2 linked regions of the Homo sapiens genome follow. The protein of the gene in region 1 purifies or fractionates together with the protein of each later gene. This does not show direct contact. Each region holds a gene or a part of one and is shown on either strand. Other genes may lie near its edges.

Region 1 (4,183 bases):
AGTAAAGCTCTTGTTTTAAAAAGTATTGTGAAACTCCAGTTTGACACAAAAGAAGAAAAGTTTGCACGGTTGTAACTGTACAGAGAATTTCACCAGGGAAGGGGTTGGCTCTTAAGAAAGGCACACATGGCTAGAGTTGGGCAACAGCACATGGAGAGGGCTGTGGAAACGTTTTTCATGGGTGTAATTGGAAGAACTGCAAATATGGGGCATAGAAGCAGCCCTGGGAGCTGTAAAATGATGAGAGAGGACAAGGAATATGGCTGAGATGGCTGTGCCAGGGACTCTCTTAGGATTACTTAGGAAGCAGGTCTTTGGCCATTTGACTCACACTAAGTTCATGCACAGAACAAACCACAATGGAGATGATAAATCCTGGCACAGCATCAGTGGGTACTGGCAGTGATTCCACCAATTTCTCTCATGACTGTGACCACCGATGATCTTCTTCCTGTATTAGGTCATGCGTGTAACAAAATTTAGAGAGCTATCTACCTTGATAGGCTGTTTTAAGAAATAAATGTTAATATACCTGTAAAACTCAGAGCATAATGACTATATACCTGTAAAACTCAGAGCATAATGACTAGACTATAAAAGGCACTCATTGGAGGTGAATTATTTTGCCATCACCTGATACTCTACTCTCTTAGGTTTTTATAAACCTATAAAATCTAAGGCAAAAGATATTTGACCATTTGGTTGTTTTTGTCTTTCAGGATTGATATGTATATAGAAGGTATAGCAGATTTGGGTGAAATGATCCTTCTTCTGCCCTTTAGTCAACCTGAGGAACAAGATGCCAAGCTTGCCTTGATCCAAGAGAAAACAAAAAATCGCTACTTCCCTGCCTTTGAAAAAGTAAGTGAAGCTGTTCAGTGTTTTGGGGAACTGAGTTTAGAAGCCAGTAGAAAAATAGTGGCTGGGCATTCCTGGGGCACTGATCTTCACTTTCAGTGATACTTCCTGGACACCAATGCAGCACTCTGACTCTCAAGGCATTTTATGAAAATAGACTTGGAGAAACAATTGTATCACTTATACCCAAGCTATAATCTTCCAGTAAAATTTTAATTTACTGAACCCCAATATGGAATTATCTGTTCAACAGAATTTTGTGTTCATAAGTAGAATGTGGGCTGTGGAAGGCTCTGGACCACACTAGAGTTGCTGTTCAGTCTATGGAACCCCATGGACTTTGAACAGGGGCATGATGAAAGTGATCCATCAGAAAACATTCTGGCACCATATGCAGGAAGACAGGAGACCAATTGCCCAACCAGAGAATATTGCAGTGTTTCAGGGATCAGTATTTTTTAAAAGGAGAGTGACTGTGGGATGCAGAGGAAGATTCTGTAAAATGCATTTTATAGTAAGTTGCAGACATCAGAGCAGTTCACTCCTAAACGCTTCAGCTTGCAGATTATAACATAGTGCCATTTAGGAACCAGAGTCGATGCTGTAAAAAAGATGATGAATTCAGGTTCACCCAGGTTTCCTACAGATCTCAGGGAGATAGAGCAGGGAATGAGGAGAACAGACAAGGAGAAATGAGGACTCTGAAATAGTCTCCTTCTGGGGGAAGAGTGTTGTCACGATGGTGGAGTCACTGCCCAAGGGAGATTGGAGCGGGAGACAGCAGAATGTAGAGCCACATCCTGAATGTGAGGGCTCCACACTGCAGGGCCTGGGGCAGACAGAACATGCGGCGGCAGGTGCTAAGCCCTTGGCCCATGTGGAAGAAGCAAGCTGGGTGGGTAGTGTAGACGCCACAGTGATGTGGATGAGAAGAGAAAATGGGAGGCTGAGCTCCAACTGAGGAGTGAGTACAGTTACACTTCTTACTATCTCATTCATTCAGATAATGTGGAGAAAGCTCGGGATTTCTGCATCCATGCAGTAAGGCAACAGAGGTGGGGAAAGTCAGGGTGGAGAGGCTCTGAAAGAAGCAGGGGTCCCAGCCTGGGTGGGCATGTGTTCCTGATCTGATTCCTCCCATTCTCCAGGTCTTAAAGAGCCACGGACAAGACTACCTTGTTGGCAACAAGCTGAGCCGGGCTGACATTCACCTGGTGGAACTTCTCTACTACGTGGAAGAGCTTGACTCTAGCCTTATTTCCAGCTTCCCTCTGCTGAAGGTGACCCATTTCACAGTCTTCAGAGAGGCAGACCCACATCTCCCATCTTGGGATCTTGTATCTGGGCCCTGGGACTGAGCATGTTTTGACCCCAGCCTTCTCCAGGCCTTTGGTGCCCCAAGGTCTCCAAAATGAGCTTCCAGGCTCCAATTTTGAGGAATGAAAACACTTTTGTTATGGAAAGGAAATTTGTAGTGCATGCTACCCCGCAAAGAGTATTTTGCCTTTTATTATGGAAAGGACCCAGGGCCCAGCATGTCTCCCCATCCCTCTATTTCAGTGTGGTTTCTGTTCCTGAGTTCTCTGTGATGTCCTTTATCCCATATGTGCCCACATTGAGTCAGTCTGAGCAGAGCCCTTTCCATCTGGTTTCCTCCCTGGGCTCCGGCTCCTGCTGTCAGACATTTTGTTCCTCTCTGCCCAGCTCTCCAGCACTCTGCCCCCGACAATGTATCTCTCACTGAGAAAAGGTGGTCCCATGGTTTGTCTTTACTATTTTCTATAACATTTTCCTTTCCAACTCATTTTCCCATATTTTCACTTCTGCTTAGAGACTGATCTGTGCTGATATCAAACAAGCACATTAGTTTTTCTTGTCTTATACAAGAGTCACTAATCTATAGGATTAATATGTAAGAAGAAAGATAGGGATGACTGAACTGATTAAAATTTCAAGACATCTTTGGGGAAAATAAAGTGAGCTACATGTTCTTCCTCTTATCTTCCTTTCTCACTGGGTGTCTGTTTCTGCCTTCACCCAAGTGGAAGCGACTCACTTGGTCTTTGGCAGGAGGGACTCAGATTCCCTGGGTCATGTTAATGGGGGTGTCAGCCCTTGACTTGTTGTTTTAGTGAGGCTGTGCTTTGTGGATTACAGGCCCTGAAAACCAGAATCAGTAACCTGCCCACAGTGAAGAAGTTTCTACAGCCTGGCAGCCCAAGGAAGCCTCCCATGGATGAGAAATCTTTAGAAGAATCAAGGAAGATTTTCAGGTTTTAATAAACCAGCCATAGAGGTCAAGAACATGCAAGACCAGTATTCTAAAGTTTTGCAACAATTAAGTGCTTTACCTAAGTGTTGATTGTGCCTGTTGTGAAGCTAATGAACTCTTTCAAATTATATGCTAATTAAATAATACAACTCCTATTCACCCACTTAGTTAAAATTGATTTCTTCTCATTAGGATCTGATGTGAATTCAGTTTTCCAATCTCCTCCTAGCCAACAATTTTCTTGGAATTACAAATTCAGTAAAAATGGAAACTATAAATTATGTGGTTTGTTTGACTTTTCCAAGAATTGCCCTGTAACATACAATTTGTCATACAATCTATTAAAATGCCAATGTAAAAATGCACCTCTGACATTTTCAGGTATGCACAGGAGAAGAGTTACCATCCTGGATAATGGCATAAAGACATTTTCTTCTTTTCCTGAACAGTCATTTTATTTCTGATAAAAGCATTCTTTCTAATGCATTTGCAAAACAACGATTCTGTCTGCTGTGGATTCCTCCGTTTTCTAGGAGGTGAGGAAATATTGAAGAGCAAACAGACCCACCCTCTGCTCTCAGGCCACCTTGTTGTCTCTTACAGTGCATGTGGTCCTGGCTTATCCTCACTCTGCTCCTTAAGCCTCCATGGGGTCCCAGGCATAAGCCTTCTCTCAGTTCCCTCAGTGCCACTCAGACCTGGGCTGCCAAGATACAGATGGTATATGTGAATTACATACAAATAACTATATGCAAAATCATTTTTCCCTGGTGTGTCACTGTGCCAGAGTGCTTAGATTAGGAGTGCTTTCTAGCTCCACCCCCATACTGGTCCTGTAATGCTAATCTCTCCCAGGACACCTGGGCTTCTGCAATTTGAGCTCTCCTCCTCTTAGAGGGAGCTTCCCCAAGTTGGCAGAGGTGGTTGAGGGAGCAGACAGACACACAGGCTTCCTACCTGCAGCTTCACTTTGCTCTAGTCTCTTCTCCACTTACAACCAGAGTAGTTTTTCTAAAATGCAAATTGGAAAAAAAAAATCACAGAATTCTTCAG
Region 2 (8,227 bases), on another chromosome or scaffold:
TTTTTTTTTTTTTTTTGAGACGGAGTCTCCCTCTGTCACCCAGGCTGGAGTGCAGTGGTGCAATCTTGGCTTACTGCAGCCTCCTCCTCCCAGGTTCAAGCAATTCTCCTGCCTCAGCCTCCTGAGTAGCTGGGATTACCAAGCGCCCACCAGCACACCTGGCTAATTTTTGTATTTTTAGCAGAGATGGGGTTTCACCATGTTGGCCAGGCTGGTCTCGAACTCCTGACCTCAGGTGATCCACCCACCTTGGCCTCCCAAAGTGCTGGGATTACGGGCGTGAGCCACCACGCCTGGTCTACAAAGTCTTTTTGTGAAATAGCTCCAGTTTGTCTTTCCAGCCTTATATCATACTATTCACCCCACTCTCTTGTTCCAGCTATAATGAATTTACAGGTTGTCTTAAACTGGCTGAACCTCCCTCTTCTACAGCTAGTTAATTCTTATTTTTGTCATTTAAATCATCTTGGGAACTTCCTCCTCTAGGGTCCTCACTCAATTTGAGAGTAACTGACCTTCTTCATTCTCTTAAAGTCTTGTCCTTACTTTTAGCATAACATTTATCACATTGTATTGAGGGACCATAAGCTCCTTACTGAATTCTGTCTATATTTCCAGCATAGGTGTGGGTGTTCAGTAAATACTAGCTGCTGTGAAGAGATCCCATGCTGCATGTCAAGGCTAAGGTTTACTTTGTAGCACTTGATGAAGTGTGGTTATGAAAGGAAAAAGAGAAGATAGAATAGACCAGACCGAGTGCAGTGGCTCACGCCTGTAATCCCAGCACTTTGGGAGGCTGAGGTGGGAGGATCTCTTGAGCCCAGCAGTTTGAGACCAGCCTGGCCAATGTGGGGAAACCCCATCTCTACAAAAAAATTCAAAAAGTTAGCCGGATTTGGTGGCATGTACCTGTAGTCCCAGCTACTCAGGAGGCTGAGGTGGGAGAATCACCTGAGCCTGGAAAGTCGAGGCTGCAGTGAGCTGTGATCGTACCACTGCACTCTAGCCTGGGCATTGGGAGTGACTGCATTTAGCAGGAAAGCTGAGTCCACTGAAGGTGCTTTCACAATTATGGTGATTCTGTGCACATTTGTTTGTTGAAGTAAAGGGAGCATAGTTGAGAGAGAGAGAAAGAGGTTGAAGATATAAGAGAGGGGATAGAAATAAGATTACTTGGAAAAGAGGAAAGGTTTTCACCAAGTTTTCTTTTTTCTAATTTTTTTTGTTTGAGATGGAGTCTCACTCTGTCACCCAGGCTGGAGTGCAGTGGCGCGATCTCGGCTCACTGCAAGCTCCGCCTCCCGGGTTCTTTAAAATAATTTTTTAGCCTTTAGAAGTCTACAAGGTATTCATTCCATCCAGGCTGAGTTCAATGTCGCTTAACATAACATTCCCAATGAATCATTCATGGTATACATTTATTTAATAGAATCTTCATCTTTTCCTGGTCCAGGAAGGAGATGGATAAGAAATACACTTGATAGAAGTTAAGAAGTAAAAGTGTCCTAACAAAAATCTGGAGCTGCCTCACAATCAATGCTATTAGAATGGTTGGTATACTTTCAAAGTATATGCCTGGAATACGATGACATTTTAGAAAGGGCTTGACTCTTAAGATAAATGTTACCTATATATTATAAATGTGTTTTTTATATATAAGTACACACACACACACACGTATACACAAGTACGCACACACATATACTAAGCAGTGTGTGTGTGTGTGTGTGTATGTAAATTGTTGCTTTCATGATTATTGAATGTGACATTCTGATTATTCTGGTTTTAATAGTTATTTTATTATACAACCTGAATTACTAATTAAAAAAATAAAGCACAAGAGTTAGAAACAGCTTACATTAAAACTACGCAGTATTCATGAAAAGGCAGTTTCGGGGCCTCGGTCATCACTGTGAATTTTTTTTTTTTTTGAGACAGAGTCATGCTCTGTCGCCCAGGCTGGAGTGCAGTGGTGTAATCTTGGATCACTGCAACCTCTGCCTCCCGGGTTCAAGCAATTCCCCTGCCTCAGTCTCCCGAGTAGCTGGGACTACAGGCGCACGCCACCACGCCTGGCTAATTTTTCTTGTATTTTTAGTAGAGACGGAGTTTCACCATGTTGTCCAGGCTGGTCTTGAACTCCTGATCTCAAGTGATCCACCCGCCTTGGACTCCCAAAGTACTGAGGTTACAGGCATGAGCTACTGCACCCAGCCTAGTCATCACTGTGAACTTCCACAAACACTCATTGAGAGCCAGTTACTCTGCACAAAGTACTGTGCATAGAGCTGGGAGGGGCACAGATGTTTAAGATGCGGATCCTGCCTTTAAGAAGGTATATTAGCTATTATAAGTTTCAATTAACCAAATGTGTGATGATTATTAAAAGTCAGTGTTACACATATTTACTTTGTTTTCTATTCTGATAAAGCTCATGTATGCTTTTAATTTCCCTTTAAATCTTAACTAATTTCCAAAACTATCAGTGTTTCATAAACAGCTTATAGTGCCCAGACAGAGAGCCTTGCCCTTAGTAGCACTCATCCTATTTTTGTTGAACTAAAACGAACAGCTTCTTCAGTTTTAACTCTTGCATGGTTGGCAATTGGCTGAATTGGAATGTGAAGACACATTTAGAGGAGAGAATGTTCTGTCTGAGTGCTGCAGCTGTAAGAATCTCTTCAAAAAACATAAAGTCTATTACATAAATTATGTACTCTTTAAACTCCCATGTTCATTTACACAATTGATCATGGAAACGACTTTAGAAATATGTGTATCAAATATTTAGCATATTTTTAAAGCTTCCTTAATAACATCACTAATAAGTGGATGCAATTTTGTGTTTATTTACGGCAAACACCTATGAATATCAGATAACCTAATTATAGTTTATCAACATTACCTTTGAATCATTCCAATGGAAATGTCCTCTCTCACTGCATTCATATTGTTTTGGTGCATGAGCATGGAAAACAGCAGATTATTTTCCATGATCATAGATTTTAAATATTTACTTGCTAGCGCTGCATAATTTAACGCACTAGAGTTGGAAAGCAGTTTGTATGACAGCTGATGCCATGTCAGTGTTGCAGAATATAGTTTCCTCCTGTGATTTCTGTGTGAAGTTGTAAAAAGGAAAGGTACTCTACTCCTTTTTTTCTAACCAATTAAAATTTGTTGTGGCAAATCTACAGAAAACCCAAGTCTGTAGTATACACACAATTTACTTTTGTATATATAGTTATTTTAAGAATCCAAGCATTGTTTCTCATGGCCTGTTAATGCACAATACCAAAAATAAAATACATGCATTCTTGTAATCCAGGTCTTTATGAAAGTTACAAAAAGGCATCTAAACAGCTTGTTAGATGCATGCTCTCTCTCCTAAAAAAAATCAAAACAGAGTTTGGGGATTTCGAAACAGGAAACCACAAGCTATGGAATCATGCAAGAAAACTACTTTGCTCACTCTAATAAGTGTGCCATTTGTGATCTTATCATATCCTTTGTTTGTTGTTTTGTTATTTAGCTGTCCAAGTACATGAATAAAAAATAAATAGATCCAGCTACCTGTTTCTGTGAGAATAAAAAAAAATTTAAACCACCAAATCCACTAAAAAATTGAAAAAATTTCAAGTTTAATTTTGAACTTTTCAACTCTTCATTCTTGAAGGTTTTCATTCCCATGTGGTTTCATAGTCCGGTGGCATAGACTTCATATTTTATTTTTAGTTTTTAGTATAATTTCCTATGTAATTCAGAAGCATGTCTGGTAGTCCTTGCTCCAACAAAATCTGCGGTACTGTAAAACGGCATAGGATTACATTTTACAGTAACAGTATTTCTCTTGACATCATTTAGGAGTGAAGATAAAAATTTCCACTTATTTATTTATTTATTTATTTATTTTTACTTTTTTGAGACAGGGTCTTGCTCTGTCGCCCAGGCTGGAGTGCAGAGGCACAATCTTGGCTCACTGAAAACTCCGCCTCCCGAGTTCAAGCGATTCTCCCGCCTCAGCCTCCTGAGTAGTTGGGACTACAGGCGCGCGCCACCGCACCCGGCTAATTTTTTATATTTTTAGTAGAGACGGGATTTCACCATGTTGGCCAGGCTGGTCTGGAACTCCTGGGCTCAAGTGATCCGCCCGCCTCGGCCTCCCAAAATGCTGGGATTACAGGCGTCAGCCGCCGCGCCTGGCCAAAAATTTCCACGTTATAAAAAGCATCTTCGGACCGTCCTTTTTTCTTTCTTTCTTTTTCTTTTCCTTCTTTTTTTTTTTTTTTTCCCCACAAAGCCTCGCTCTGTCGCCCAGGCTGGAGTGCAGTGGCGCGATCTCTGCTCACTGCAACCTTTGCCTCCCGGGTTCAAGCAATTCTCCTGCCTCAGGCTCCCGAGTAGCTGGAATTACAGGCGCCCGCCGCCACGCCCGGCTAATTTTTTAATTTTTTAACAGAGACGGGCTTTCACCATGTTGGCCAGGTTGGTCTCGAACTCCCAACCTCAAGCGATCCACCCGCCTCGGCCTCCCAAAGTGCTGGGATTACAGACGCGAACCACCGCGCCCGACTGTCCTGTGTTTTAATGCTTGAAAATAATCTGAATATGGAAAATGAGTGCACATATCCCTTGATGTTTTATAAATAACCTACAGTCCTAATAATGGCTTGGCTTAGAGTTCCTTCACAACAGGAAAAGAAGGCATCCTGGCTTTTTTTTTTTTTTTTTTTTTAAATCAAAGTGAGGCTTGGGTTGGCTCTATCTTGGTCCTGAGTGCGAGGAAGGAGGGCCGCAATGCATGCTGGATCTTGCAGTTCCTACGCCAGAGGCAAGGGCGTGATGCTGCATGGCCTGCTGGTAGTTGAAGTCCAAGTGCTCGAGAGGAATTTATGGCAGCCGTAATGTGGTTTGTCTATCAGAGAGACAATGCTCACAGACGGATACTTTCTCTTGGTTCTGCGCTTGCTGCATTGGTGGATTAGCGGCTTGGGGTGGCGAACAGGTGGGAAAAAGGGATGGATAAAGTAAGCATAGCAGAGGCCTTTACGCCGCTGCTATCGCTACTGCCAATCGCAAGGCTTTCGTATCCCGGAAGTGGCTGATCTGTTGGATTTGACGCGGAGGCGGTTCCTCTTACTACGGTGGCCGGGGTGCTCAAAGTACCTGTAGCTGCGGCGCTGAGGTCGGAACGTCTGCGTGTGTGCGGGCTGGTTTTGTGGCGGCTGCTGCTAGAGCTGGAGCATTTGCCGGGTTGGTGGCTCCTGCACATTTTTACAGTTCTCCAGTCCTTCTCTTTCGGTGAGGGATCGGCTTGAGGCTAAAGGAGTCAAGAAGTTTGGGACTTAGCGTCTCTGGTCCCCGAATGACTGGGTTTCTTGCGGGGGTCCGCCTTCAGTGAAGACCCTGTGGCCAACCATCTGGGTTCTCTGAGGGTTTTGGCGCCTTCCTTGTCTCTCCTTTCTAGTGTCATTTGTCTTCTAACTCTTCCTCGCTTTGTCCTGGGTTGCAGAGATAAACCGTAAGCCTAACTGTGGGCAGCTGTTCCTCCTTTCCTTGTGGTTTTCTTAGATGTTGCAGGCAAGACTCTTTCCCCTGATCTATCGCATCCATTTGACCCCTCCTCATGCCAGTGCTCTGTCGGCCCTGTTTTTCCTCGTTTAAAAAATAAAAAAAGGGAAATAATAATAATAACTGGATCCCCACTGTCTCTCTGTTCTCATTCCTAGCCTCTTTCTCCCTTTTTGGTGTTTGTTACTGCTTCAAGCCATAACACACTGCCTTGCATATATTAATGCCTTTCCATCTAAATATTAACGTTCATTCACTTCATTTGGTTCCCGCTCACCGTGAACTCTCCCAACCCTACCCACATCTAAGGGCTTTTGAGGTTGGAGGTGTAGAATAAATTCTTACATATGATGACTATATTCATATATGAGAACCTTCAGCGGTCAACTCAGCATCACTGCTTATTGAGTTTATATTTCTTGTGATTTCTTTGGCTTACCTTTTCGTTTTGTATTGGTTATTTACCCACATGGGGCTCACTGCTACCCTATAGTTACAGAAGAATACCTCGTCTTACATCTTTTTATATCCGAATTACTTAGGAGTTTTCTTATGTTTTCCTGCTCGGACCATATGTCCCCGGTGGGTTTTTGGCAATGATTTTGTGTCAGTTGATGGCAGAAAGAGACAAGGGAATGATCTTCTTGCTTGCTTGTGACTTGTAATTAGATTATGAGCCATTGAGAATACCCAGAGGGAGTGGAAAGGCTTTGAAAGGTAAAGTCTATGTATTTTCTGAGTTTCAAATTGATAAAGCTTCTTCTTTGAACAGGAAGAGTTTCTATTTAGTCCAATAATCTGAGGCTATATTGAATTACCAGTTCATTCGCTATAAAATTTTTAGAACCACATGTCAAAAAGTGGCCCATCTAAAGAATTGTATAATTTAGCAAAAAGTCATTAAAAGCCATTTAATTAATGCTCTTTTTCTTTAAAATAGGATTCAAGTATTTGGAAAAATGTATTTATGGTGATTGGTTATGAAGTATTTCTAGATGTTTTGATGGTTCTGGTGAACAGCATCGTATTCTGTTCACTAATGTTTTATAAAAAGGCAGAAATTTTCTGGCTTTCTGGGGAACCACGTAACTCAAATGAGTTTGCAGCTCGTTTTCTATTCCAATTATTGCACTAAAGAGGTTCTTATACTAAGATTATCATTCTTTTTTAAGCTATCAAGTATGATCTATACATGTCAGTAAAATATAAATATTAATACTGGTACAATGTTAAATTGGGATTATTCCTAATTAATGCACAAAATGCTGAAATGGTTTCAGCCATGCTTAAGATTTGGGGCGAAATATATTTCAGAATAAATTTACTCATATAATTTTTTATTGAAAAAAATGATACGGTAGCCATTACTCAATCTTTTAATATTTTTCCTGAGATTTTATTCATTTAGTAGGAATTTAGTGACTACTTACTATTTAACTATTGTCACAAAATCACCAAAACATTTGTTTGTAAGAGTATCCTCTTGTCCTCAGCTCTGCATAGATACTTTTAAAGCATTAGCGCAGTTATTCCAACTAAGCTATTGAGTATTATTTACATTTAACAGATGAAAAAACTGAAGCTTGAAGAATTTAAGGAAATTAATTCAGTTCTTTTCGACTCTTCCCACTGTACAACAGCTGCAAGGATCTGTGCTCTATCCTGAAATATATAAAGAGCGTTAAATCAACATATGCTTACTGAGCAGCTATTCATACCAGACACTCTTCAAGGTGCTGGGGATATAGAGTGAACAAGAAAAGTCCCTGCTCTTAGGGAGCTTATACTCTAGCAGAATGTATGAGATGTAAACTTTCCCTTCAAGAAGCAGAAAATATAGTCAATATGTATTAGATTTTACGGGAGTGTTTTAGAATGTTAAAGGTGAGAAGAGAGATAACTAGGGAATGTTTCATGAAGATGAGATCTAATGTGGAATTTAAATAGTGGTTAGGGATTGGTAGGTAGAAATTAGGACCCTGTCTCAAAAAAAAAAAAAACAAGTGAAAATCTGTGATATAGAATAATTGGTGAGCCTTATAAAGCACTTTATTTTTATTTTTTGGACTATATATAAGTAAAATTGTAATATTTGACATGCATTCAATCATTTAGCATTTATTTATTAACTAGACACTCTTCTAGGCCACAGTGGTATAGTAGTGAGTAAATACGGTGTTTACCCTCATAGAATTTACTAACAGAGGAGGCAGACATAAATCAAATAGTCAAAGAAATTTAAAGTTACAACTGTGGTAAATGCTATTAAAAAAGGACTTGATGTTACACAGAGGAAGAACTGATTACAGAGGGGATAAGAGTGGGGATGGGGAGAGGCCAGTTAGAAGATTGTTGGAGTGGCCCAATTGAGAGATGGTATTTTGGACAAGGTGGTGGTGGTAAGATGGATTCCAGAGGTGTTCAGGAGGTGGAACTAGGCGATGGATTAGATATGGAAGGTGAGGGAGAGGAAGATATCATGGGCTAATCTTAGGTTTTTGGCTTATATAACTGGAAGGATTGTTGCACCCTTCACCGAGGTAGAGAACATCGAAAGAGGACCAGGTTTGGGAAACATGCTTTGTTTATTAGTATTTTTTGTTGTGGTAGCAGTGTTTAAGGTTAATTTCTTAGTTATTTTTACCCTTTTGTGTCA

The links.
Region 2: the proteins of GSTA2 (region 1) and ATG4C purify together in Homo sapiens (affinity purification with mass spectrometry; 2 studies listed by BioGRID and IntAct, with this or other methods). This does not show direct contact.

What each region holds. Positions count from the first base shown.
Region 1 is NC_000006.12:52,749,532-52,753,714, reverse strand, and holds the end of GSTA2 (glutathione S-transferase A2), read left to right. Parts: intron 1-719; coding exon 720-861; intron 862-2,006; coding exon 2,007-2,138; intron 2,139-3,015; coding exon 3,016-3,138; 3' UTR 3,139-3,628; downstream 3,629-4,183. UniProt on the Homo sapiens protein: Catalyzes the conjugation of glutathione to a large variety of electrophilic compounds.
Region 2 is NC_000001.11:62,778,973-62,787,199, forward strand, and holds the start of ATG4C (cysteine protease ATG4C), read left to right. Parts: upstream 1-5,159; 5' UTR 5,160-5,301; intron 5,302-8,227. UniProt on the Homo sapiens protein: Cysteine protease that plays a key role in autophagy by mediating both proteolytic activation and delipidation of ATG8 family proteins.